2 linked regions of the Homo sapiens genome follow. The protein of the gene in region 1 purifies or fractionates together with the protein of each later gene. This does not show direct contact. Each region holds a gene or a part of one and is shown on either strand. Other genes may lie near its edges.

Region 1 (11,573 bases):
GCTTCGCCCCCATCTCCAACGCTTGGAGGATTTCACATGACCACAGCTTAAGGGCTGGGCATGTCCTGTAACCTTTGACCTGACCTCCTCTCTGCGACTTCAAATGCCCTTAGGCCTGGGTCAGGAGGCATGATATGACCATCAAACCAGAAAAACAATGAGACAGTTAACATTGGCCAAACTATTGGGACTTTTGCCTTAGTGCCATGGTTCCCAAACCATGCTCTCAGGCACCCTAGGAAACTGTAGTGAATTCACTGGGGTTCCATGGGCTGCTGTACATTTTCTAAGGAAATACAGCAATATTCATCATCTGTCAGACACTGTGCGACCTACTAGCTCAAGGTAATTCATGATTTCAATAGAATCACACTTTGTTCCTTTTGATGGTAACATATATCTTTGCAAAGCTGGGTTTTTAGTAGTTGTTAAGCTGATAAAACAAGTACCATGCAAGAAGCAATGTGGAACAGGAAATGAGAGTTGTGGTTGCAAACTGATTTCAAGCTTTGAGATAGGCATGCTACAATCCATTAAAAACTAATTCGAGTTAAGCATGTAAGAAAAATGTTTTTTTTCAAATATTTTGCATTAACTTTTCATATAACTCCTTACTTGTTAAAACATAAGCACTTACTAAGGTATTTGGATATAGCTATTTAATAAATGGAACAATTAGGTATTATTTTTGGCCTAGGGACACAGTGAAAAAAATTATGGAATACCAAGAGTGTCATGAAGCAAGGAAGTTTGGAAATCTCTACTTTAGTTATCACTTTTTTGGCATACAGAAATCACTCTCACTAGGATTCTAAGCCCTAAGGGCTATGATGATGTTGATAATGATAATAGTAGCAGTAAAAATAGTGGCTAACAGACATTGAGCACTGCTATGTACCATGTTCTATGCTAAGGGAGTCTCACACATGATTTCATTTACATGCTTTATGCAATTTGCTTCCTCCTATTTTCCTTAACCCAGAAAATGTTAGTCCTAATTTTCCCATCTTCTGCCTCTAGACCTACTGGAGAAAAATTAAAAACCAGTTGACATTTCTTGCGATAAATTCAGGAAAAAACACCATAACTTTTTTTTTCTGAAAATTATAAAACCAATTTTCTATTCCCTGCTGCATTTTCAACCAACATGTTAAAAAAAATACTAATCTCTTCGAAAGTATGTAAATTTTCTCCAGAATCCTAAATAGAAATCAATCAACCAAAATGAATTCAGCACCACTCCATGTTCGGCATTGTGGATGACGAAAAGTACTTTAATGCAAGGTCTGTACCCTCAGGGGGCTTATGATTTGGTTTATACATGAAATAACTAGAAAAAAAAGTAAAAAATAGCAGTACATACTAAAGGACAAAGAGGCGGGATAGGCTTGAAACATTATGTTGAGAGAGAAATAAGCCCTAAGATTGAATAATCACAGACCAGGCCCGTCAGCAACTTACCTTTCTGTCTCATCTCTCTCTTGCTATGAACAACTTTTTCTTCCTTTCTAGGGACCAGGCCATCTCTTCCAGTAAACCAAACACTACCATCTGTCCTAAGACACCTATCCTTTTCTATTCAAAGGGAGACTCTGTTTCTCAGGAAATCACCATGATTTTAAACATCATCAAACATTAATTTTCTCCTTGACTATAAGCTTGCTAACTTTGGTATGCCCAGCAAAGGAGATTACTTCATAACTGCATTGTGCCTTTCAGCTTTTATGCATTGCTTCTTTTCCTTCTCCGGTCCAACTTTAAATTCGTGCATGTGTGCTTGTGTGTGTGTGTGCATGCATGGATATATATTATTACATATGTAGTATATTTACACATACATAGAGTATAATATATAATACACATATAATGTATAATATGCATATTATATACATAATATAAAATGTATACATAATACATAATATATACGTAATACATATTATAGAATATAGAATATACATATAACATAATATACACATAATATGTAATATATACATATATACACATATGTGTTGTATATAATATATGATATATACATATCATATACAGTATGCATATAATATATAGTACACATATTATATATAATAATTATACATTATACATAATATATATGTCTCTATGGCTTCTCTACCAATTTTTTTACTTAAGCCCTGTAACTGTCTTTATCACCTTATTACCAGTGCCATTTCCAAGTTTATCCATTTAACCATTCAACAACTATTCAGAAAGTGTCTGCTATTATGCAATGCATGTTCTAGGCACTGGGGATAAACTGATGAATAGGAAAGACATGGTTCATTCCCTCATAGATTCTAGCGAGGTACATAAACAAGCAAGACATGTTTACTATGTACTGTGACAATTGCTACGATGAATAAAATGTCAAGGTGCCGTGAGAGTCATGGTGGTCAAAGAAGGCTTCCTGGAGGAGGTGATGTGTACATTGGGTGTTGCTGGATAGAAAGATGTTAGATGGGTGTGAAAGGAATAGAAGATTTTTCATGAAGAAGGAATCCAGGCTCTAAATTAGAAAAGACATGACACACCTGAGGGACTAAAGTTAGTTTAATAATACTGGATGTAAAGGTAGGAAGGAAGTGACTTCAAGAGGAGGGTGAAAGAAGATAGTTGGGAACTAGTTAGGGGACTTCTCTGGAAGATAATGAGGAGACATGGAGTGAGTTTATGCATGTAAACATTTTTAAAAAGATGATTTTGGCTGAGGTGTGGTAAATGGAGTGAAAGGTGAGGGGCAAAATTGGAGGCAGAGAGGTAAGGAACAGGTAAAAGGTGGTGGGGGGTTTAATTAGGGGCCCAACAGTAAAGATGGAGAGGAGTGGATAGATTCCAGAGACAGGAATTCACAGGGTGTGGGACCATTTGGTTGTTGGTGATGATAAAGAGTTAGGCATCAAAGATGGTGGCTCCATTTACCAAAGTGGGAAACGTAAGAGAAATGATGCTTTCACTTATTGAAATGGGAAATGATCAAATAAAAAATGATTTTAGTTTGGGACAAGGTAAAAATGAGTCATCTCTGGTACATTTAGGTGAAGAATTGGGCCGGCTGGGCACAGTGGCTCACGCCTGTAATCCCAGCACTTTGGGAGGCTGAGGAGGTCGGATCATGAGGTCAGGAGATTGAGACCATCCTGGATAGCACGGTGAAATCCCATCTCTACTAAAAATATAAAAAATTAGCTGGGCGTGGTGGCGGGTGCCTGTAGTCCCAGCTACTTGGGAGACTGAAGCAGGAGAATGGCGTGAACCCGGGAGGCGGAGTTTGCAGTGAGCCAAGATCGCGCCACTACACTCCAGCCTGGGCGACAGAGCGAGACTCTGTCTCAAAAAAAAACAAAAACAAAACAAAACAAAACAAAAAAAAAAAACTGGGCCTAGAGGTCAAAAGAAAAGGATGGAGTGATAGATCTCGAATTTATCAAACTGTACAAGACAACTGACAATTTCTATTGGGCAAATTCGAAGGTACTGTTTTGTATTTTCTTTCCTCTGGCCACCTCCTTTACTTGAATATAGTTGATATCTTCTTGCTACTTGTTCTTTAGTTTCTCAAACATTCTGCTTTCTAGTTAGCATGTCATGACCTCAGGAAAAATTAAGCTTCTATCCAGAGTTTCCAGGAACTTATGTAGATATAGAAAAATAAGGAAAGAAGAAGGAGGAGGAGGAAAAGGAGAAAGAAGAGGAAGAAGAGAAAAAAGAAAAAAGATTAAGTCCAGCTTGGATCTGTAGGACATTGTACCCATCAATTAATTCATTTAACATACATGTGTTACGGAGCGCCTCCACCGTGTGCCACGAACATACTAGATTAGATGTTAGAGAGTCAATTGTGACTTCTGAGGCCAACAGTCTGGCTCAGAAGGTAGACCTTAAGTAAATAAATAACAATAACCAAATTAATGTATAACCATCCCCTGTAATAAGTGCTATGAAGCAAACAACATCCATAAACATTTTGGTGCTCAAAGAATAGTCCGTGGACAAGAGCCATCAGTGTCACCTGGGAGCTTGTTAGAAAAGCAGAATTTCAGTATCCACCCAAGAACTATGGAGATGGGATCTGCATTTTAACAAGACCCCTGGGAGATTTGCATGCACATTAACATTTGAGATGCACTGCTCTGGAGTTCACAGGGCTATGAGAGAAAACAAGAAGTAGATCTGAACTCATCCTGTGGGTCAGGGAAGGGTTCCCTGAACAGACGGCCTCTGGCTAAGCTAGAGAAGCAGGCAGGGGCTACATGGCACAGAGCCTCATGGGCCATGTTGAGGGCTTTTATCTTTTTCCTAAAAGCAATCTAAAGAGAGTTAAAGGTTGTCTTAGTCAACTCAGGCTGCCATAGACTGGGTGGCTTATACAACAGAAGTTTGTTTTCTCATAGTTCTGGAGGCTGAAAGTCCAACGTCAGAGTGCCAGCATGGTCAGGTTCTGGTGAGGTCTCTGTTCCTGGCTTGCAGAGAGCTGCTTTCTTGCTGTGTCTTCACATGGTAAAGGGAGAGAGAAACAGGCCTCTTTCTGGTGTCTCAGAAGAACACAAATCCCATCGTGAAGACTCCACCCTCACGACCTCATCTAAATTGCCTCCCAAAAGTCCCATCTCCAAATACCTTCCTATTGAGGGCTAGGACTTCCACATATAAATGTTAGGGGGACACAATTCAGTCCACAGCAAAGGTTTTACACAAAGGAGTGTGGAAAAATTAGACTTTTGTTTTTTAATTCCTGTTCTGACTGAAGTGTGAAAAAAGGTTTGAAGGGGTCAAGAATATATTCAGGAGACCAGTTAAGGGGCTATTTAAATCATCATGATAAAAGATACCGATAGCTTGGACAAAGCCACTGGTAGAGATGAAGCAAAGTGAAACATTTCTAAATATTTAGGTGTTAAACCTGAAAGACTTTGATAATGGATTTCAAATGGTGGTTGAAGAAGGAGGTTTAAGAATGACTGCCAGGTTTTTAGCTCATGCAGTTGGATGAATATGATATCAATTCTTGAGATAGGAATCATGAAGTCAGCAAGTTTGTGCATGGCATTTTGCTAACTGCAATGAACAATGCATTTAGAAATACCAGTAAGAATGGCTATCATTAGTGAGCATTTATTATGTGCCAGTCACTGCATAGACATTTTGTGTGCATTATCTTAATTAATATACGACACAAGCCTTGATTTCTGAGATGGAAAAATCAACTCAGGCAAGCTAACTACAGAAGACTACATTGTTAAGGGTTTCAAAGCGTCTGGTACAATAAACAATACAGAATGCTTTCACAGGAGAACATCAGAGAGGGTAATGTGGCCACAGAAGACAAGACAGAATAAAGGGAAAGGTAAGCTGAGGTCTAAAGATTGAGTAAGGCAGAAATAAGCATGACTCCATCAGGAAGTTCACTTGGGAAAACAGTGGAGAAAAAGTTGAGTTGAAAGGGAGAGCCCAGATTATGAAGGCCCTTGAAAGTCTATAATTCAGATTTTATAGAGAGAAAGGTTTGAATGTGAAAGGAACATGACTTTACATGATTTTAAAAAACCCGTCTGGCAACAAGGGAGCTTGAAGATGAGGAGGCCTGAGTTCCAGAGACTGCCTTGTTAGCATTTGTGTTTTCCAGGTAATAGGTCAGAGTTCTGGCCTACCTGGGAGGGAAAATCAACAAGGCTTAGTTTCATTGGTTGAGAATGGGGGAATGTGTCAAAGATAACTGAAGTTTCAGGAATGGGATTCATGGAATGATAGTTTCAAAGACAGCAGAGGGAGATGAGGAAGAGGAGAATCACAAATCTGTTTAAGTATATTAATAATTAAAAGTAGTTTGTATCTGTTTGACCACAGAACTAATTTAAATTTCCAGAAGTATTACAGTAGATGAAAGCCTGCAAGTTAGGATATGTGATAGAATTACATGGGGAAGACAAAGAATGTAAGTATAAAAACTGAGGGGAATAAAGCATGGTAGTTATTGAAGAAAGTAGCCTAGAAATTATATGAAATATTATGTTTTTAAGATGCAATGGCAAAATAAAAAGAAAGCATTCCATTGCATTCTGTTGCTTCATTACAGATGCGCTGAACAGTTGCTTATAAAAATCGTGCATTGGGTTCAACCTTTCAGATGAATAAAGGCTTTGTTCTGTCTTGGTCTCATCATGTAATCATCATACTTTTTTTTTCTCAAAATGTGGTATTTAGGGGAGGAAAATGTATGCTTGTTGTGTTTGCTCAATGCCATATGTTTTTGAGTTTTTGTTTTCAAGGCATACAGAAATGCTGTAGACTGGGAAATAAATAAATAAATAAATAAATAAATAACCCTTCCTAAACTTTCTCTTCTTCTGCTTTATCTCAGGAAACTCCAGCACCTCCTAGAACATCTTTTGTGGAATGGCACCTCATGGGGGCCCTTGGATCATGTACCCCTTGTATTCAACAGTAAACATCTTCCTATAATCATTGCTTCATTAACGATAATGTGAGCCAATGCACAGTATTTATCAAATGGCATCTAAGATGGTTAAAGCACACCTAATCCTCTCGTGGGTGCCTGCCAAGAGTAGAAAAGGGTAGTGTATAGATATCAATTTTATTGTCCAGCATTCCCTAATCGAAGTCCCAAGTGGTCTGAAAACTTAGACGAAAGATAAATGGGCCGCAGTAATTAACCACTGCAATAACAGATGTTATACAGGAAACCTGTGTGTGCCAGAGCTATAAGCATGTTTTGATTTTGAATACGCACTTGGGCTAGCACATTCTTCCTCAATAATGGAAATATGTAAATGTTTTGTAAGGTATTAACTGCCATGGCAGACGTTGAATTATTTTTCCTTTAAAAAACATATACATATGCTTTGTCAGATAGTCCAAGGACTTCAGTTTCATGTACAACCTGGATTTCTTTGGAATCTGCGGAGTTTCACATTTTCCCAAGTGTTCACGGTGAAGCTCCTGGCTTCGAGCTGGCTGTCTTCAAGGGTGTTTTCTTGAGCTACCCCTCTCTCTGCTCTGCCAATTATGTGCCACTTTGTCTTGGTGCTATGATTGCTTTCTTCTGAGAGGGAAATTCCTCTTTCATCAGTATGGATGCACTGTTTTTACACACTGCAAGTGCTGTGTTACTGTGTCAGTCATCCTATTAGGGCCAGTTTCAGACGAGTAGGGCTGACGAGCTGGCTGGGGATTGGCTGGCCCCGGCTGGGAGGGATTTGTCGGAAGGAAGGGCTGCAGCTTACAGCAACAGAGTTTAGACTGTCTTTGCTTCATCATCTGAAGGTAAAATTTTCCAGATACGGCAGACGGCTTTCAGAGTACAATAAACAGGGAATGAGAACTATTTACATGGAAGTTTCTTTCTCATGATGCGGTGGAGAAGCCTCGGCCACTTGGTTCTGCCAGATGTTCCTGGGGTTACTGTAAATGGGAAGGACAGGCAGAGCTAAACAAGGTAGGAGAATCGCCCCCCTTTTTTGAATGTTTAAAGAGTTTGCTGCAGTATGCTGCATTCCATGTGTGCTGCTTACGGGAGCCAGGGAAACTGGATTCCACTAATTCAATTGTAATACTTGCGGGGGACCCTGGAGTTTTACGTAACATTTTGATTTGAGAAAAAGAAATGGCAAAGCTTGAATCTATGCCGCCTGTTTGGGGTGAGGCAAGAAATCGAGTTTTTATGCAAAGAATCGATTCATTTATTATATTATTTTTTAAAAACCATTTGAATTCTTTGGAGCAATCTTATTTTCTTGCTGTGAAAAATTGTTATATTGCCATAGCTAGTTCCCAAATAGATAAAGTTTACATGGATCCTATTATTTGAAAACAGACTTGCAATTAAGGATTAAAAAAAAATTCATGGTAAATAATCATCGGTTGAATGTTTGGCCAAACGTATGTGTCTATTTATTAAAAATTAGGGACCTACCTAGCTCTACAATGCTACAGCTTTAATTGAGTTTCAAAAGCACATTTTAAACAACCTAGCAAGAGGTAGCTTTCTGGCAAGTTTTCGATACTGTAGTTCAATGTTTACATTTCTTTTCCTGGCATGTCTGAGCCTTTGTTTCCAGCTTAAAAGTGGAACCATTATATTCAAAAGTAAAGCTGGGTTAATAATGCTTACTGCAATTATCTGATCTTTATGCATTTTTAATGAGAACACACAGCCAGCAGAATAATTTAATGAGGGCAGGCTAGCTTTTAAAGCTGTGTTTTCACTATGCCGAACCATATCAACTTTCTCGCTGAGAAGCAGCAGTGAGAAATGATGGAGAAGATTTATTTTTAACACACTTGGCCCAGGAGAAGGAAAGGATATATTTGCTAAAGAATTCTTTCTGCCCTTTTCCGTTTTAAATTTCTGCCAGGCATGAGGAAACTGTGCTTTTTTGTTAGGCCTCGGAAGCATGTGTTTACAATAAATGTGTAACATTTTTAGAATAGTTAGCAAGCACTGAAGCGAAGAAAAAAATCTGACTTGCCTAACCACCACCACCTTGAATGTTCTACAAGAAACATTACTGTCCCTTTAAAAGACAAAGGTTAAGTGGAAAGCTATTTGTTAATTGGGTAATGTGTGTGTTTTGGGGACAATAAGGTTTTTAAAAAAGGCAGGGGGAACATTCTTATAATCTTTAAATAAGAGGAAGTTTCTTCAGCTATCCTACTTGTTTTGCAAGGAGCAGTAGAACTACTCATTTAAATAAGGGCAATGCCACGTAGATTCTTCTAGACCCACTGTTTTTACTTTCAAGGAGAAGTGCAGGACACTAGCCCAGAACTTCTGACGTCATCCCCCAACTATTTCTGCTGTGTGTTCCTTTATTCGAGCTTGTGGAGAGGAATATTTCTTTATGTCCTGGCCAGGAACATTCTAACTCCCCACTGGCAGGACTTAAGTTATGTCTTTATATTTTCGCCTGTCTTTTGTAAATTGTAAACCTGTCCCCTCATAAATAGGGCATCTTCTTGTACCTGCCACATGTCGGGCCGGTCAGCACAGGTTTTCTGCAGGGCTTCTGGCTGGGCTGGCAAAAAGCAGCAGGGAGCAGGGCAAAGCTTTTTTTCTGGCCTGACTCCCCCTTGGTGCAGCCCAGCGCTGCCACCTGGGTGGATGGTCCCCGGGGCCCTATTCCCAGTTGCTCCAGAGCCACTATTTAGGATCCAGGTTGTGCCACCAAGTTCAAGGCTGGTTGTGATGGTGAGAACAGCTGCTTTCATAGAAAAATCATCATGTCCTAGCACAGATGGCCCCAAGCAGGGGAAGTACAATACTGCAGGCTGCAAATCCATGTCACAGGTGGCAACCTTGGTCACAGAGATCGGGGGAAGGGTAATGTTTACAAAGGAACCTTTTAAAAAAGATTTTGACTGGAGCACATTGGAGTTCTCGGGAGTTCCCAAAGCTAATTTGTGTCTCCTCTCTGACTACTCACGTAGTTTTGAGCAAGTGCCTACCTTGATTTTTCTGTCTTTTAATAGAATTGAATCATACTTGCTACACTTTCCCTCATCATTTAGCATTTTGAGACCTTGACCTTTTACCAAAAAAAAAAAAAAAAAAAAAAAAGTTGTTTGTCTCTTGGCACATTGAGCTATTTAAAGTACAAAGGGATAAAACCTCGGTATTAAGAAACTGTTGGCAAACACCTTAGAGTATTAAGATACATAGTCATATACACAAAACCCTTCACTCTACTTTGTGCTCATGTAAATTTTTTAGGGATACTTTTTCTTAGTTCAACAAATGAAATTTCCAAGGAAATCAAAGCGTTGTTGTTTGCATTTTTTCCATCGATCTAATCTAATATACTAGAAGCTCTGCAAAGCACACTATTCTGGCCACAGGCCTTGTAGTGCCCAAAACATTTAATGCTGTTTTTCCTTTGACTTTTGTGTTAAATTTGTGAAAGTGGAGTAAATAAGAGAAAAAACAAGAGGGAAGGAGAAAAATATGCTTGTGAAATATACTGGTTAGGTAGCTTTACTGGTTAACAGCCTGCCTTCTCTCTGCTAGTTGTTTCAATTTGCTGTTGCTATGGTGAAAACAAATCAATATCACATGGCTACCAGCCAGTCCCGCGCTCAGGGAGTGCCATAGAAATTCAAGATCAGGTACTCAAGATTCCAAGCAAGAATTGGGAAAAGAGGATTTAGATGCTGAGCTTAAGAGAATTCCTTATAGTAGAATAAGTAGGTTCAATCTCTCATGCATTTTCTCTTCCTTTTTTCCTGTACTTTCCTACCGATAACAAGAAAAAGATGAAAAGGAAGGTATACTGATTTGTTTACATTTCCAAAATGACAAAACAGATTATCAACATAGAAATAGGTTGGCAACATTGCAAGGGGTGAAGGATTCTGATTCGGGAAAAGGTGGATAACTACAAGACATGTTGGTTGTTGAAAACATAGTTTTGGGGGCCTTTACCATCTTCAGGTACAGCTACATGTCAGAGCTGGCTGGGTTGTGCCAAGCAGAGAAACCTGGCAACTCTAGGGGGCAGGTGGGCAGTGGAGATAAAGGGGGTTATAAAAAGGTAGGGAGGTGTGGGCATAAAAATCAACAAGCAAGAAAGCCCAGAGAGAGCTGCAGGTCAAGAGTCAGGCCAGGCAAGCACAGATCCCTGGGGCATGGCAGAACAGGAGAGGACAGTTCGCCCTGTTCACGAAATCTGCTCAAGACCCAAGCTAAAGGCCTAGCAAAGAAAGGCAGGAAATAGCTGCAAAGAGAAGTAAAGGTGTCATGGGCCCAGGCATCCTTTCCGGAAGGGTCGACTCAACTGGATGAGCATGGATGTCCACTGCTGGGGAGAGCAAAGAGCTTGATATTTTAATGCTTTGGTTTCTCTCAGAAGAATGAGGCAGGAAGACTTAACCGGGCTTTGTAAATTAGTTAACATACTATTTTTTTTTCTCCAGTTTTATACTCTTCTCAGTTTTTTTTTTCTTTTAAAAAATGTGCACAAACTATTTGTTGCAGCCGTGATAATATTCGTAGTAAAGAGCCAAAGGTGCTGCGTGGCTGGGTCTGCATCAGGCCTGGGCCTCCGACTGCACGGCTCCAACTACACAGTTGTTTATGGAGACCAGTCCCGGCCTCCTCTGCTGAGAGTAAAAACAGGTGTGAAAGGTAAGGCCTAAGGGTTTCTTTTGTAAACCTGAGCTCTGAGGCTGATGGACGAGTTTTGGGCTGGCCTGCCCTCCTCAATACAGCAGAAACGCTTGGTAATAAAAGTGGACTCAATAATTTACCTTAGTGTTTTGACAAAGAATGCATTGTCTGAATTATACTAGGTAGTATATTCCATCAATCAGTCAACAAGTGTTTATTAAACACCTCTGGGCTTCCCTGGCTTTTGCTATTTGGTGAGAAACCCAACTCAGTAACCTAATACCTGCCTTTGTGTGTGTGTACAAAAATAAATGATGCAAAATTGTAAGTTTCAAAGACTTGAATAACTTTATTGGCTAATATTAATTTAGCATTGTTAACCATCAGATTAATTTTAGGCTTGGGGCAGTTTTAGTGATTGGGGGAGAACAAGAGATGGACT
Region 2 (10,611 bases), on another chromosome or scaffold:
GGAATTCGAGACCAGCCTGACCAACATGGTGAAACCCCATCTCTACTAAAAATACAAAAATTAGCTGCGTGTGGTGGCACGTGCCTGTAATCCCAGCTACTCAGGAGCTGAGACAGGAGAATCGCTTGAACCTGGGAGGCGGAGGTTTCAGTGAGCTGAGATTGCGCCACTGCACTCCAGCCTGGGTGACAGAGCAAGACTCTGTCTCAAAAAAAAAAAAAAACCAAAAAATGCTGGGTGCGGTGGCTCATGCCTGTAATCCTAGCACTTTGGGAGGCCGAGGCAAGAGGGTCCCCTGAGGTCAGGAGTTTGAGACCAGCCTGGCCAACAGGGTGAAACCCCACCTCTACTAAAAATACAAAACAATTAGCTGGGTGTGGTGGCGCATGCCTGTAATCCCAGCTACTTGGGAGGCTGAGGCAGGAGAATCGCTTGAACCCAGGAGGCGGAGGTTGCAGTGAGCCAAGATCACGCCACTGCACTCCAGCATGGGTGACAGAGACTCTCTCTCTCAAAAAAAAAAAAAAGGGGCATCAGAAGGAAAAATGCATTATTAGCTCCTTTTTTTTTTTTTTTTTTTTTGAGACAGAGTCTCGCTGTATTGCCTAGGCTGGAGTGCAGTGGTGTGATCTCGACTTACTGCAACCTCTGCCTCCTGGGTTCAAGCGATTCTCCTGCCTCAGCCTCCTGAGTAGCTGAGATTACAGGCGTGTGCCATCACACCCGGCTAATCTTTGTATTTTTAGTAGAGACAGGTTTTCACCATATTGGTCAGGCTGGTCTTGAATTCCTGACCTTATGATCCATCCTCCTTGGCCTCCCAAAGTGCTGGGACTACAGGCATGAGCCACCGCGCCCAGCCTTATTCCCTCCTTTTATGAGACGGAGTCTCACTCTGTTGCCAAGCTGGAGTGCAGTGTCATGATCTCTGCTCACTGCAACCTCCGCCTCCCGGGTTCAAGCTATTCTCCTGCCTCAGCCTCCTGAGTAGCTGGGACTACAGGTGCGCACCACCACGCCCAGCTAATTTTTTGGTATTTTTAGTAGAGATGGGGTTTCACCATGTTGGCCAGGATGGTCTCCATCTCTTGACCTCATGATCTTCCCGCCTCAGCCTCCCAAAAGTGCTGGAATTACAGGTGTGAGCCACTGCGCCCAGCCTCCTTTTTTTTTTTGAGACAAGGTCTCACTGTCATCTAGGCTGGAGTACGGTGGCATAATCACAGCTCACTGTAGCCTCGGCCTCCCAGGCTCAAGTGATCCTCCCACCCCAGTCTCCCAAGTAGCTGGGACTACACACGTGTGCCACCATACCCAGCTAGATTTTTTTACTTTTTGTAGAGATGGGTTCTCACTATGTTGCCCAGACTGATCTTGAGCTCCTGGGCTCAAGTCATCCACGCACTCAGCCTCCCAAAGTGCTGGGATAACAGGAATATGCCAGTGTGCCCTGCTGTTATTACCTTCTAAAAGAACAGACCATTCTAACCCTATTGTGAGTAACAGCCACTCAACTCCACTGTTTGATGCCTCTGCTTTATTTTCTATCAAAACATACCTGGGCATACTTCATCAGCATGTTTTCTCTGGGAATACGATGGTTGTCCATTTTGAGGTAGCCATTGTCTATCTCATCATAACCAAATTTGGGGCCGATGTCACCAACGGTAATTCCTACCACAGATGAAAGGACAGTCACGAGATGTTTATGCTCTGGAATTTCTGGCTTTTGCTCCGCCTCTTCAGTTGGGCATTCTACCTTTTGCAGAAGAAAGTGCTCAGTTTCATTTTCATCTCAACATCAGATGAACAGTTCTTACCTGGCAAAGGCTTATGGGTCCCGATTTCACGAATAGGTACGATAAAGGCATGTAATCCATAGCATTTCCCCTTAGTGATGAGCTGGGCAAGAACTATTGCATGATTTGAAGTCTTTCCAACTGTAATATCAAAGAGAACAAGGGAGGGGTGGGCAAACGTTCATACATTTTTAAAGGGTAGAAAAAAGAAGAAAGAATATGTTAAATCTAACACTAGACTAAACCAATAGTATGTGTCCAGAAAGCCTTTCTGCTGACAGCATCACACCTAGCTTTCAGAAAGAAATTCCCTTAAGCTAATAGTTATTACTTTCTTTTCTACTTATTTCTCATACATTTACGTAGAGAAAATTTTAGGATAAAAATAAGAATATTAATTTAAACTACTTCCTTGTTATCCCTTAAGGCAGTGCTGTCCAAAACAGTAATCACTAGCTACATGTGGCTTCTTACATATAAATTATAAATAAATAAAATATATAATGTGAATAACAAAATCCTTCAACCACTAACTGTATTGGAAATATATATTCCAAGATAATAACTCAGAATGGAATAAGAAGATATAAAAGTTTCGGGTCAGCCGGGCACGGTGGCTCGCGCCTGTAATTCCAGCACTTTGGGAGGCCGAGGCGGGCAGACCAGAGGTCAGGAGTTTGAGACCAGCCTGGCCAACATGATGAAATCCCATCTCTACTAAAAATACAAAAATTAGTTGGGTGTGGTGGCACGCTCCTGTAGTCCCAGCTACTCAGGAGGCTGAGGCAGGAGAATCGCTTGAACCCAGAAGGTGGAGGTTGCAGTGAGCGGAGATCACACCACTGTACTCCAACCTGGGTGACACAGTGAGACTCCATCTCAAAAAAAAAAAAAAGTTTGTGTTAAAACTATTTAAATTTTTTTCTTTTTTTTTTTTAAGAGACAGGGTTTCACTCTGTCACCCAGGCTGGAGTGCAGTGGCATGATCACAGATAGTAGCTCACTGCAGGCTTGAACTCTTGGGCTCAAGTGGTCCTCCCACCTCAGCCTCCTGAGTAGCCAGGACTATAGGTCTATAGGTATGTGCCGCTATGCCTGGCTTTCCTCTCTCTCTCTCTCTCTCTCTCTCTCTCTCTCTCTCTCTCTCTCTCTCTCTCTCTCTCTCTATATATATATATATATATATATATATATATATATATACACACACACACCTCTCTCTGTCTATATACACACACACACACCCCTCTATGTACACACACCACACACACATATATTTGTTTGTTGGGTTGTTTTTGAGACAAAGTCTTGCTGTGATGCCCAGGCTGGAGTGCAATGGTGCAATCTTGGCTCATTGCAACCTTCCCGGGTTCAAGTGATTCTCCTGCCTCAGCCTCCCAAGTAGCTGGGACTACAGGTGTGCGCCACCACACCCGGCTAATTTTTGTATTTTTAGTAGAGATGGGGTTTCAGCATATTAACCAGGCTGGTCTTGAATTCCTGACCTCAAGTGATCTGCCCACCTCAGCCTCCCAAAGTGTTAGGATTTCACCACCAAGTCTGGCCGACATTATCATAAAAGCTCTACATTCTAAGCAAAATCTCATGACAAACCTTCAAAACATCCAATAAATGCTGAAAAATTCACTTACGCCCACCAGGCCACCATTTAATGGAGGTCACAGTAGGACTGTTGAGAATGAACTCCTGGGTTTCAGGGTCATACGTGGCTGTGGTTTCCAAGCCTCGAAGGTGAGTTCCTAAGGAGATAAATTACATTGACTTCAGTTAAGAGATGGGGAAAAAAATAGGCACAAGGAAAAATTTCCTGCACAGTCCTTTAAACTCTCATATCTCAGAGAAAAACAAAATCTAACAAAAAACACCTGTAGATGAGCTACAACTGGTTGATAACCAAGACACTGAATTTCCCACACTATCTGATGGTTTCCTATTAAGTTGAAAATCTAAGTGTCATGCATGTTCCATTTCTGTATTTGATTTGTTACATTTATTTACAGCAACTGAAAGAAAATATAAAGGCAACTTAGAATCACATTTTTAAGATCACAATATATGAATTTAACAGGGATGTTAACTGTCTTTTTAAACCCATCTCTGAGTTGCAAGTATGCCAATTTCAAGTCATATGTATTGTGTTAACCACACCAATTCAACATTCTTGAATTCTGTACTAATGAGAAGAATGAGATAACATGTGAGAGGAAGACATTTCAGCCAAAATTCGTATAAATTAAAAATGTATGGCTGTGCGTGGTGGCTCATGCCTGTAATCCCAGCACTTTAGGAGGCCGAGGCGGGTGGATCACGAGGTCAGGAGATCGAGTCCATCCTGGCTAACATGGTGAAACCCGTCTCTACTAAAAATACAAAAAATTAGCCAGGCATTGTGGCATGCGCCTGTAGTCCCAGCTACTAAGGAGGCTGAGGCAGGAGAATTGCTTGAACCCGGGAGGTGGAGGTTGCAGTGAGCCAAGATTGTGCCACCGCACTCCAGCCTGGGTGGCAGAGCAAGACTCCATCTCAAAAAAAAAAAAAAAAGAAAAAGAAAAAGAAAAAGGCCAGGCACAGTGGCTCAAGCCTGTAATCCCAGCACTTTGGGAGGCCGAGGTGGGGGGATCACGAGGTCAGGAGATTGAGACCATCCTGGCTAAAGTGGTGAAACCCCGTCTCTACTAAAAAAACAACAAAAAAATTAAAGCTGGGCACGGTGGCTCACGCCTGTAATCCCAGCACTTTGGGGGGCCAAGGCGGGCGGATCACAAAGTCAGGAGATCGAGACCATCCTGGTTAACACGGCGAAACCCCGTCTCTACTAAAAATACAAAAAATTAGCTGGGCATGGTGGTGGGTGCCTGTAGTCCCAGCTACTCGGGAGGCTGAGGCAGGAGAATGGCGTGAACCCGGAAGGTGGAGCTTGCAGTGAGCTGAGATCGCGCCACTGCACTCCAGCCTGGGCGACAGAGCACGACTCCGTCTCAAAAAAAAAAAAAAAAAAAGTATAAAAGTATAACTGTTATTGGGGAAATGACCTGAAATGTGACTTTTAAAAATTCCTAAAGGTCCAATAATAAGGTCTCAGTTGACCCTAGAGATTTCCAATGGCAGGCCTAACTTAGTCCTGCTGGTTCATTAATGTGGCAAGGAAGAGTTTCCAGTTTCTTATGTGTACTGGGATAGACAGGATCTTATGTTTTAAATCTTAACACAAATATATCAAAATTATTTGAAAAGAGTCATAGAAAAATGTTCTAGGTGGCAGTCTCTACAAAAATACTGTACTAAAGCAAACGTTGGGAACCTTTTACCAATCTGCTTTCATAACGCTTAGACCTCATTAAACACACTTTGAAACATTTAGAAGCTTCCAAGTTGAATAACCAACTTATGTGCAATCCACAACTTTCCCGAGTGGGAGTCAACAAATCAGACACAGACATCTTTCATCAAAGAAGCAGCTTTTACAGAAAAGCAGATAACATTAAACAGAACAGATAAGGACAAAATGTTTTCAAAAGCACAACTGAAACAAATAGTATTCCACTTGGAGTCTCATGAAAATCCTGTAAAATACTATTCAACACCAAATAAAAAGCAGCAGCTGTATAGAAATAAGGAGCAAGTGGCAAATACACACTAGACCAGTTTTTCTGAAACGTCAGAGCAGAAAAAGAGAAGCCATAAGCAAATGAATGGCAAACACGGACCCAATTCAGAGAAGATACAAAGAGGAACAGCGGCCACCTCCAGCCCACCCAGGTGCATGAAGAAAGCAGGTGGGGGGTGGAAAGATCAATGAAAGGTGGAGATACAGAGTCTGAAACCAAATGCCTGCAAGTTCGGCTTATCTTGGTTTTTTCACTCTCCAGCCAAGTCACTTGCAGAACTACTGATTGACTCAAAGTACAAATAACTCCAAAATGTCACACACGTCAGTTATAAGCTACTCATTTCCCTCAAGCAAATCCAAGAGTACACAAACTATTATTTGTATTTCTTCTGGAATTTGTACTCATTAAGGTATCAGTAGTAAAGGTAATCAGATAGTAATGAAGAAAAAAACAGCTTCGGGTTGTATATGCACACAGATTCTATACAACCTCAGTAACATTGAAAAACCACTTGGTAAATAAGGCCTGATTTGCAATTCTTGACCCTCTGAAGGGGAACTATGGTATAAAAAGGACAATCATTTTATCAGTATCATGGTCTTTAATTCCCACTCACCAAAGCAGTGTTTATACCAAAACCTGGACTCTGCAGAAAGAGCTCATTTAAACAGACCATAGAACATCGACACACCATCGATGGCACATGGTGGGCACTCCACACATGGTAAGCTCACAGGGGCCCGCCCAACCCAGAAGGTAGACTGAATACTCCATACCATGACCCATCTCTGTCTGGGCATAAGTGCCAATGATCTCCAAGTTCCAGGCGGGCATGAAGAAGCGCTCCTGCTGCTCCGCAGTTGCCTGGTGAAGCAAGGTGGGCAGGAACATGCCCAAGTGAAGATCCAGAGGCTCAGGCCGCCCTCGGTGCACAAAACTTCGAGGAAATATCAAGGATGGGCATTTGAGAGAAGAGTCATCAGGTGTGAGAGAATCAGCAATTTAAATAGAGCAAGGGAAGGAGACAAAAAAACCTTAAGTATGAATTAGTTGCGTGCACTTAATCATAGATGGGAGCACTGTCCCTTTCTGTATTACTTTATAGCTCTTGTTAATTTCCATTTTTCCTGAGTCGGCAAGGAGTACGAGGACAGGGATTGGTTACTGATTCCAAAGCCAATGCAGCACAAAACCACACGTGCAAGGCAGAGGATCCTCGCCCAGGAATTAAATCAAAGGAAATAAAGAAAATTTGAGAGGCCAGTGCAGTGGATCATGCCTACAATCTCAGCACTTTGGGAGGCCAAGGCGGTCAGATCACCTTAAGTCAGGAGTTCGAGACCAGCCTGGCCAACATGGCAAAGCCCTGACTCTACTAAAAATACAAAAATCAGCTGAACGTGGTGGCGCCAGCCAGTAGTCCCAGCTATTTGGGAGCCTGAGGCAGGAAAATCGCTTGAACCTAGGAGGCGGAGGTTGCAGTGAGCCGAGATCATGCCCACTGCATTCCAGCCTGGGTGACAGAGTGAGACTCTGTCTCAAAAAAAATAAATAAATAAATAAGAGAGAATTGGCCAGGTGCAGTGGCTCCCACCTATAATCTCAGCACTCTGAGAGGCCGAGGTGGGTGGATCACCTGAGGTCAGGAGTTCAAGACCAGCCTGGCCAACATGGCGAAACCCTGTCTCTACTAAAAATACAAAAATTAAGCAGGCATGGTGGTGCACACCTGTAATCCCAGCTACTCAGGAGGCTGAGGCAGGAGAATTGCTCCAACCCAGGAGGCAGAGGTTGCAGTGAGCTAAGATAACACCACTGCATTCTAGCCTGGGCGACACAGTGAGACTCCATCTCAAAAAAAAAAAAAAAAAGAGAGAGAGAATTTGAAAAGTTGTATAGGGCCAGGCATGGTGGCTCATGCCTGTAATCCTAGCACTTTGGGAGGCTGACGCAGGCGGATCACTTGAGGTCAGGAGTTTGAGACCAGCCTGGCCAACATAGTGAAATCCCGTTTCTACTAAAAATACAAAAAAAAAAAAAAAAAAAAAAGGCCGGGCACCGTGGCTCATGCCTGTAATCCCAGCACTTTGAGAGGCCAAGGTGGGCGGATCACCTGAGGTCAGGAGTTCAAGACCAGCCTGACCAACATGGTGAGACCCCATCTCTACTAAATATACAAAATCAGCCAGGTGTGGTGGCACATGCCTGTAATCCAAGCTACTTGGGAGACTGAGGCAGGAGAACCTGGGAGGCGGTGGTTGCAGTGAGCCGAGATCACACCACTGCACTCCAGCCTGGGCAACAGAGCGAGACTCTGTCTCAAAAAAAAAAAAAAAAAAAAAAAGTTGTATAGAATGGAGAATTTGCTGGGTGTGGTGGCATGTGCCTGTAATCCCAGCTACTTGGGATGCTGAGGCAGAATCGCTTGAAGCCAGGAGTCGGAGAACAGAGAATTTGAGTGGTACTGGTACAAGGATTTCCTCTGATGAGAAAGCGAGACAGAACATAGTAGTTCTCTCAGAGTGACAGTATGACCCCCAGATTATAGTTTTTCCTCGATGCAATTTCAATAATGCTTCTAGGCTGGGATTTTTTTTCTGTTTTGTCCACAAAACATCCAGCGTAGAACCATATTCCTCACATAGCTCTGATCATTTCATTCAGATTCATCATGTCAAATATTCGGCCACGCTCTACTGAAACACTTTAATACAAAAACTGACAGTGCTCTTCATCCCAATAATTTATTTCAGAAATTAAAAAAGACATGCAATTTCTAGTGAAGACCATAATAACGACAAGTTACAGATTCATGCATAAGCTCTCCGTGACAATTATACAGAAATTATCATTAATGATAATAAACAGCTTTATTAGTTTTAAATCAACTTTCTGGGGTCATTCTTTTCCACTTAAAACGTGCAGGGGACAGGATTCTGTGTGAATTTTTGCTAGGGATAGGAAGTCGTTCTATAGGCCTTTGCATTTTTCCACATTACTGGTATTCTGTGTAATTGCCAGCTCCAAATCCGTCAACTCCATATTGCTCTTATCATTCTATGTGTCTTTGAAATGAGCATAAATGACAGTTCAGTTTTTAAATTGCTGTTTGTTCCTTGCAAGGTAGGGAGGAAAAGAACCAGGGCACACTGCTCAGACAAGTGCTAATCAATGACTTCTTCCAATCTAGTGGCTAGGCTTTCAGCTAAGCAATCACACTTTAGAAAAAGAAAAATCAAAGTATGTGTGACTGAATCCCTCATTTTACAGAGGAGAAATTAAGGCTGAGATGAATTAAATGCCTTGCTCAGGGAAAAAAGAAAATGGCAAAACAAGGACAAGAATCTCGTCACCATGGGAGCTGAGCAAGGGGTAAAACATGGACATGCAGAATGGAGTAACAGACACAGGGGCCAGGCGCGGTGGCTCACGCCTGTAATCCCAGCACTTTGGGAGGCCGAGGCAGGGGGATCACCTGAGGTTGGAGTTCAAGACCAGCCTGGTCAACAGGGTGAAACCCCATCTCTACTAAAAATACAAAAACTAGCTGGGCGTGGTGGTGGGTACCTGTAATCCCAGCTACTTGGGAGGCTGAGGCAGGAGAATCACTTGAACCCAGGAGGCAAAGGTTGCAGTGAGCCACGATGGCACCACTGCACTCCAGCCTGGGCGACAGAGACTCTGTCTCGAAAAACAAAAAACAACAACGAACAAAACAGACACTGGAGGCTCCAGAATGTGGAAGGATGGGAGGGGTATGAGGCCTGAAAAGTTACCTACTGGGTACTATGTTCACTATTTGGGCAATGGGTACTGCAAAATCCCAGACTTCACCATTACATAATATATACATGTAAGGAAATGGCACTTGTACCCCCTAAACCTATTTTTTAAAAAAAGAACCACCTTGTCACCTCGTCCTGTCTCCTAGCTGGGGAAATTACTGCACAAGCATAGCATGGACTAAAGACTGTGACTGCAGGCCGGGCGCGGTGGCTCACACCTGTAATCCCAGCACTTTGGGAGGCCAAGGTGGGCGGATCATGAGATCAGGAGATCGAGACCATCCTGGCCAACAAGGTGAAACCCCTCTCTACTAAAAATACAAAAATTAGCCAGGTGTGGCAGCGCCAGCCTCTAATCCCAGCTACTCGGGAGGCTGGGGTAGAAGAATCCTTGAACCCGGGAGGCGGAGGCTGCAGTGAACGGAGATCGTGCCACTGAACTCCAGCCTGGCAACAGAGCAAGACTCTATCTAAAAAAAAAAAAAGACTGTGACTGTAATGAAGATGCTAAAAAGACATGCTGAAAAAGCCAGGGCTGTCCTTAGAAGCCTCAAAAATGGAAATCCCACAAGGTGTCACCACTGGTAGAGACTCCGTGACGGGTTCACAGGGTTTCCTGGTACTATTTTTGTAACTTCCTATGACTCTACAATCATTTCAAAATTAAAAAAAAAAAAAGGCCAGGCACGGTGGCTCATGCCTATAATCCCAGTACTTTGGGGGGCCAAGGTGGGCGGATCACTTGAGGTCAGGAGTTCGAGACCAGCCTGGGCAACATGGTGAAACCCCATCTCTACTAAAAATACAAAAATTAGCTGGGCATGGTGGCAGGCGCTGGTTATCCCAGCTACTCAGGAGGGTGAGGCACGAGAATTGCTTGAACCTGGGAGGCAGAGGTTGCAGTGAGCCAAGATCGCACCACTGCATTCTAGCCTGGGGGACAAGACTCCATCTCAAAAAAAAAAAAAAAAAAAAATTAATAGCGGAAATCCCAAGAAAAACACATTCATGGGATGAGAGTGCCTTTCACTCAAACAGAAATGTCAACTGTCCCCAGCCTTTTGAGTACTGTCTAGGAAGAAAATTCAATGTGCACTTAGAACCTGGAAGGTGAAAACTGAGTTAGGACTGAAACCTGGGACCAGACACTTTTCATGCTTTTATGGAAGGTTATTTTACTTCACTAGAAATCAGAGCAATTCCTGGTGAAGGAAAGGCCACTATCAAGCACCCATCAGCCTCTGGAAGATTTACATCTGAGTGTACCACAGAGTGAAGATGCACGCTAAGGGTTACAACAAATGCGCTCAGTAGGGCAGGGGTAAAACCACTATAATCACAAATGGTTCTGACACTAAAGAATGTTTTCAGGAAAAAAATATTTCTTCCAAATAA

Evidence for each region.
Region 2: the proteins of MBNL2 (region 1) and ACOX1 purify together in Homo sapiens (affinity purification with mass spectrometry; 3 studies listed by BioGRID and IntAct, with this or other methods). This does not show direct contact.

What each region holds. Positions count from the first base shown.
Region 1 is NC_000013.11:97,215,067-97,226,639, forward strand, and holds the start of MBNL2 (muscleblind-like protein 2), read left to right. Parts: upstream 1-7,266; 5' UTR 7,267-7,465; intron 7,466-11,573. UniProt on the Homo sapiens protein: Mediates pre-mRNA alternative splicing regulation. Acts either as activator or repressor of splicing on specific pre-mRNA targets. Inhibits cardiac troponin-T (TNNT2) pre-mRNA exon inclusion but induces insulin receptor (IR) pre-mRNA exon inclusion in muscle.
Region 2 is NC_000017.11:75,954,008-75,964,618, forward strand, and holds part of ACOX1 (peroxisomal acyl-coenzyme A oxidase 1), read right to left. Parts: intron 6,369-10,611; coding exon 6,208-6,368; intron 3,560-6,207; coding exon 3,452-3,559; intron 1,941-3,451; coding exon 1,821-1,940; intron 1,675-1,820; coding exon 1,559-1,674; intron 1-1,558. UniProt on the Homo sapiens protein: Involved in the initial and rate-limiting step of peroxisomal beta-oxidation of straight-chain saturated and unsaturated very-long-chain fatty acids.